2 separate regions of the Homo sapiens genome follow, and region 2 is linked to region 1. The links come from fine-mapping of genetic effects on gene expression. A gene starts in region 1. The other region holds a variant in brackets. All regions are shown on one strand. Distances are from middle to middle. Region 1 holds the start of CPNE5 (copine 5). Region 2 overlaps CPNE5 (copine 5).

Region 1 (2,900 bases):
GAGGTGGGAAGGATCCCAAGACAACTGAAGATGACAGGCATGATTGAAGGCTGGGAGGGAGTGCCAGGCGCAGGGATGTGCGTGCAGGAGAAGGGTGGGGAGGCCGTGCTGCTTTTGATGGCTGAGGAGGTGAGACTGGAGCTAATGGGCCATCAGGAATCTCCCAGCAGAGTAATGACAAGATGCAAATGGCGTTGGGAGATGATCCTGACGGCATGGTGTATGGGACCTGGGAGCTATCACAGGAGCCCCCAGAGGGCCTGGCTTAGGGGGGAAGCTACGTTCAACCAGACTAGCCTTCACTGCCACTTATCCCCAAGTCTTCAAGAGAAAGTCACACTGAGTCCTTCCCTCCTTCACGCCCCTGCCCAGACTCTCCAGCTCTACCTACACCTCATCAATGCCACAACTTTGTAATACAGGACTGGGGGGCAACAAGGTTACCTCTCATGGAGGGTCTGACCAAGGAGCAACCTGGAAGAGGATGAGATGGGTGATTTCGAACAAGGGCACAGCCAGGGCTCCAGAAATGCTGTCGGTGATCTGGGGCAGGGGGCATGGCCTCTGTGGGGGAACCTCAAAGTGGGTGATGCTTGCGTGGCAGCACATGATCCTAGGCCAGCCACAGAGAGACTGAACTAGGGAAAAATCCCCCTTTGCCACCCATACCCTCTTACTGCCAGGGGCAGCCTTCCCCTAGCTAGGAGAACCTGGGGTCGACCCAGCTCTTAGACAGAGAAGTTACCCCCAAACCCTGTGTGACATGAGTGAAGATTTGGGCGTGGTAGCCCACAAAAATATTCCCCCTCCTCCTCTGTTGGACTCTACAGTTTCACAATCAGTGTTCTATTCCTTTGGCTTAAGATTTTTGACCCAAGTTATTTTTTTAATGGTGCCACTTTAAGTTGTTATCATGTATCCACACCTTAGTATGAATGAGTCAATCTGATCCTTTTCCAGGAGTCGATTTCGTTGTTGATAGAGATGAAGGAAGGCTTTAAAATCCTAGAGTCTAGGACAGTGGGGTGGGGGAGACTGGTGAGGGGAGGATCAGGATGCTGGGGCAAAGAAGGGGCAAAGAGAGAAGAGAGGAGGGCACAGAAGGGAGAGGGTGGACGAGCCTGGGAGGGATGGGGGCAAATCACTCACTTCGTGATTTGGGGATGGGGTGATCAGAGATAGCCTGAGCAGAGACCGTAGTACAGCCTTTTACCAACTCCCTCTCCCCACTTGGGTGCCTGGACCCCCTGTTCCTGTGTCTTCATATCTCCTCGATGCAACAGCCTGGAGCGCAAACTTTCTGGGATATGACCCCAGCCTGGCTTCCTATTCTGCCGTCGCCACCCGCAGCTGGACAGGACAGGGGCTCTTGGCAGATCGGCAGGGGCGCAGTCCTGGAGACCAGGACACTCTGGGAAGGGGGCGCGCGGAGGTTTAGGATCGAAGCGGCAGGGGCCGCGGGGCTCTGCGTCCAGGGCCGGGGCAAGGGGACCCGGCCAGCGGGAGGCTCACCTGCAGGACACGGTGATCTCCACCTTGGTGGCCGGGATGCTGCCCGCCAAGGAGTCGAACTCGCTCAGCGACGCCATGTCCTCAGGCTGCTCCATCGCCCACCGCACCCCCCACCCCAAATTAGTCAATCCCTGCGCGATTCACGCCTCCTCCGGAGCGACTGGAGCCCTGGGCTCTCCCCCAACTCCAGAGCCTGGGCTGGGCGGCAAGGGGAGGAGAGAGGAGCGCGAAGAGGGGGCGTGGGAAGTGAGAGAGGGAAGAGGGCGGAGGGAGCGGGGGCCGCGGATCGAGGAGGGGGCTCGGGTGACGCCGCGAGGAGGCTAGGGGCCCAGTGGGGAAGGGCAAGGAGCCCAGGGAGCGGGGGCACAGCGGGGAAGGCAGAGAGGGGCGCGGGGAGAGGGGCTCGGGGAGAGGGCACCGGGAGGGAAACGCGGAGTCGTGGAGAGGGGCACCAGGAGAGGGACGCGCGTCTGTGGGCAGAGGTAGAGGGGATGCAGAAGACAGGGAGAGGGGCGTGAGGAGCGGGAGGCGCCGGATGGGGCGCTGGCGGCGGGGGTGGCGGGGCGCCGGCAGCGCGGAGCCCGAGCGCCCGGGCTGCGCCGCCTCTCCCTGGGTCTTGGCGCCGGCGGCGACGGGGCTGAGACGCGGCTGCGAGCGCCACCTCCTCGGCTCGGGCTTCGGCTCCGGGGCGCCCGGGCTGCGGGAAAATCAAATCTGCCCGAAGCCGCAGCCTCCCGCCGCCCGGGAACGCCAGAGGGGGCGCCCGCAGGGGCCGGGGCGGGGCCGCGGGCGGGGTCTGCGCGCAGGGTGAGTGTGAGCGTGTGTGTGTGCGCGTGTGTGTGTGTGTGCGCGCGTGGCGGGCCGGGGGACGCGGTCCAGATGCTGGGGACGTGGCGGGTGACAGCAAGAGGTGGTCCTGGTCGCGCGCATCTTCATTTGCGCCCGCCCCCTCTCACCACCCCTATCTCCCATCAGGGGTCTCCATCCTGGGGGAGGGGGAGGGTTATGGGAACCAACGGGCGCCTTTTTGAGAAAGGTCTATGCAGGGTTGAGAGGGGGCATAAGTGGGAGGGAGGTGTGCAAAAAAGATCCCCTCCCAGGGGCTTGGGTGTGGAGGGTCTCTGCTGAGTGTGCGCCCTACTCGGGGGCGGGTCTCAGTTCAGAAACAGACCCTACATCTCCTTCTGGGGAGGTGTGTGGGGGCGACCCCAGTGCCAGGAGGGACTACCTCGGTTTCCCAGTGGCCCAGGTGGGGTCGGTGCATGGGCGCCTCCCCCATCCGTGGTTCCCGCCAGCCGCGGCCTCGCCAAGTCGGCTGCCGAAACCACGCGCCAGCGCCCTTCCACTCCCCCGCCCGTCGTGACCACACGACTGAGCCAGCCTCCAGG
Region 2 (2,900 bases), 93 kb before region 1:
GAAGCGGTCCTAGAGATGGGTTAATGAGGGAGTCATTGGGGTCTGGAGGGAGTAGACCAGAGCGTGACTAAGAGGTGGGAACAGAGCTCACCAGCCAGATCTCTCATGATCTGGGCACCCCTTCCACCCGCTAGAATCCACTATCCAGCACCGGACTCTGCAGCCAGAGGCCAGAAGGTGGATGAGGGCAGTGGGGCCCAGTGAGGCAGGGAAATGAGAAGCCACGCCCAAGTCATCTCCAAGCATTTCCCTAAGGTCAAGGAGGTAGGCACATCCCCAGGGTTCCCCTAACGGGGAGGAAGACACTCCTCAAACCGCCTCCCCCACCGCACACTCCTTGCTTACGTTGACAATGGCCTCCTTGGTCTGCGCCATGTCCGAGATGACCCCATCAGTAATGATGAGCAGCACCGAGTACTGGGAGCCATCCTGCACGGCCGCTGCATTCCTGGGTGGGGCAGGTGTGGGCTCAGGTCTGTCTGCGGGACCTCTGGGCATGTTCCCCCCTAAACAAGGACCCTGAACACTTTGGAGGGTGACAGCTCTTGGGGGAATCTCTTCAGGGTCAGGGCTCCCTGAAAGGCAAGTGCGTGGGAAGAGAAACCCCCTCCCACCACCCAGAGGCAGAGCTGGTGTGGAAACAGAGGCCTTGTGAGTGCCTGGAGGCGGTGGCAGCGGCACTCACCTGGCCACGTGGGTGACCACGGGGGCAAAGTTGGTGGGGCCGTACAGCTGCACAGTGCGCAGGCTGCGGTGGTAGGCCTCCAGGATGCCGTCGATGCCACAGCATGAGGGGTTCTCCTGGTTGCCATTCTGGGGGACAGAGGGCAGGGAGGCTGAGCCCAGGAAGGAAGGACAGGGGTGCACGATGTGTGGGAACTGAGTCCAGGTGGGGAGGCCAGCAGGCCTGGGCTCCCCCAGGTCTTCTCTGGTGTGGGGTGGCGGGGCAGGGGAGGGAGCTCCCAGGGCCCATCCTGAAGCAGTGCATGCTTCAGGTGAGCTGGGTCCAAACCTGCTCCTTACCCGGCTCCCTGTACCTGTTCAGAGATGCCCCAAGATCCCTGGCTGCTTCCCTCAGGGAACCTTGGGTAAATCCACTCTGCCCTAAAATGACTGCTGGGTCTCAGCAACTCAGGAAGGACCTGTGGCTGATCTGTCCACGTGCACACTGGGCCCAGCACAGC[A/G]CCTTGCACCCTCAGGCATGGGAGGGACGTCTGCTGTGCCTGAGTGTCCCCAGCTCGTGGGAGCCAGGGAAAGGGGTGGCCTGTGCAATCATCTCCACAGGGCCCGGGATGCCCAGATGACGCCATGCTCCACATCACCCTGGAGATCCACGTCATCCCATCTCAGCACTGACTCAGGGATACCCAACCCACACCACCTTGTTCACTTTTCTGGGGCCCTGAGGGATGGGTCAGCCACAGCTCGCCTCCACCTGCACCTGCGTCTTGTCAGGAACAAGGAAGCCAGGGCCAGCTGTGGGCAGGCAGCTTCAGACATGGAGGGGCAGCATCTGTGATCAGGGAAGGGAGTGGATTTCTGGAGCCCCCCTACACACAGCAGGCAGTCTACCTCCACTGAGGCTGAGCCTTAAGTCCCCGGGCTCAGAGGAAGGGAAACGTCCCCCCACCCCCAGCTTGTCACCTCACCCCCAGCCTGATCAGTCCTCTCTCCCACCAGCGGGACCACCTACCAGTGGGAACTCGTGGGACACTCTGCCATCCGGGGGCAGCTTGGCCCCGAAGCCCAGGGCAGGGAACATCTTGTCACTGTCGTAGTGCTGGATGATCTCTCCGACGGCAGTCAGCGCCAGCGCGTAGGCGTTCAGCTGGTAGGGGCTCATGTAGTGCAGGGATGTGGACTGTGAGGGGTTCCCTGTAACACAGGACATGGGAGCCTTTGACCATCTGGACCCTCCAAGTCACCCCGGGTTCAGAATGAAGAAGGGGGTGTCCAAGGGCACCCCTAACTTTTATTAATTCTTGACTCCTCTCTTTCTCTCATACCCCATGTTAAATCCTTCAGCAAAACAGATCTAGAATCCCTCCTCCGCCTCTCCTCCTCCCCATACCACCACCCTCTTGCTTATAGGATGCAGCAGTCTCCTAACTGATCTCCCACTTCCTTCTGCCCCTGTGCCTCCAGCCCATATCCAGCACAGCAGTGACTGAGCCTATCCGCCTCAGAGAGATCATGCCTCTCCTCTGCCCAAAACGCTCAATGCCTCCACCTCCCCCAAAATGAAACCCAAAGTCCTCACAAGAGCCCGCAAGCACTCATGATCTGGCCTCCAGGTCATCTCCTACCCTCCTCCCTGTCACTCGCCAGTCCCAGCCTCACCAGCCCCTCGCCATTCCCACCTCAGGACCTTGGTGATGGCTGTTCCCTCTACCTGGGACACTCTTCCCCAGATGTCCACTCCCTGGCCCGCTCCCTGGCCTCTTCAGGTCTCTGCTCAAGTGTCACCTCCTCAGTGTGATCTTTTCCAAGCAGCCTATTAAAAATTACAGCCTCCCCCAATCCTTCCTATCCTTCTTCCTGGCTTGATTTCCCCCCCCAGAGCCCTCTTCGCTGCCAATATAGTCTGTATTTAACTTATTTGTTCATTGATGGGAGGTAGTACAGCACAGATTGCCAAGGTACCAATCCTGTCTACCTCCTGCTAGTTATGTGATCTTGGGTAAGTTCCTTAACCTTAGCCTTAGTCTCTTCACCTGTAAAATCAGAGCAATAATAGTTCCTACTTCATAGGATTGATGTGAATATTACACAGATGCTATCGATATTATGATAACTATCCTCAGTGTTATTATTACTAAGGCCCCTTCCAGCTCTGATAGCCCAGTGCTCTATGATGCTAGGACTTACAGCTATAAGAGGAGCTCCTGACACCTGTAGAG

The links.
Region 2: its variant is fine-mapped to the expression of CPNE5 in whole blood (TOPMed, PIP above 0.99).

The regions. Positions count from the first base shown.
Region 1 is chr6:36,837,771-36,840,670 of GRCh38, forward strand. It overlaps CPNE5 (copine 5), which reads right to left and starts at 1,674. Exons shown (of 21, transcript NM_020939.2): 1 at 1,513-1,674. The coding sequence starts at 1,607. RefSeq lists a silencer at 2,138-2,347.
Region 2 is chr6:36,744,703-36,747,602 of GRCh38, forward strand. CPNE5 (copine 5) reads right to left here. Exons shown (of 21, transcript NM_020939.2): 16 at 1,694-1,875; 17 at 686-813; 18 at 346-448. Among named protein-coding and RNA genes, the nearest start is that of RAB44, 48 kb to the left of the region's middle. RefSeq lists a silencer at 231-431. The variant A/G (reference allele first, on the strand shown) is at 1,185.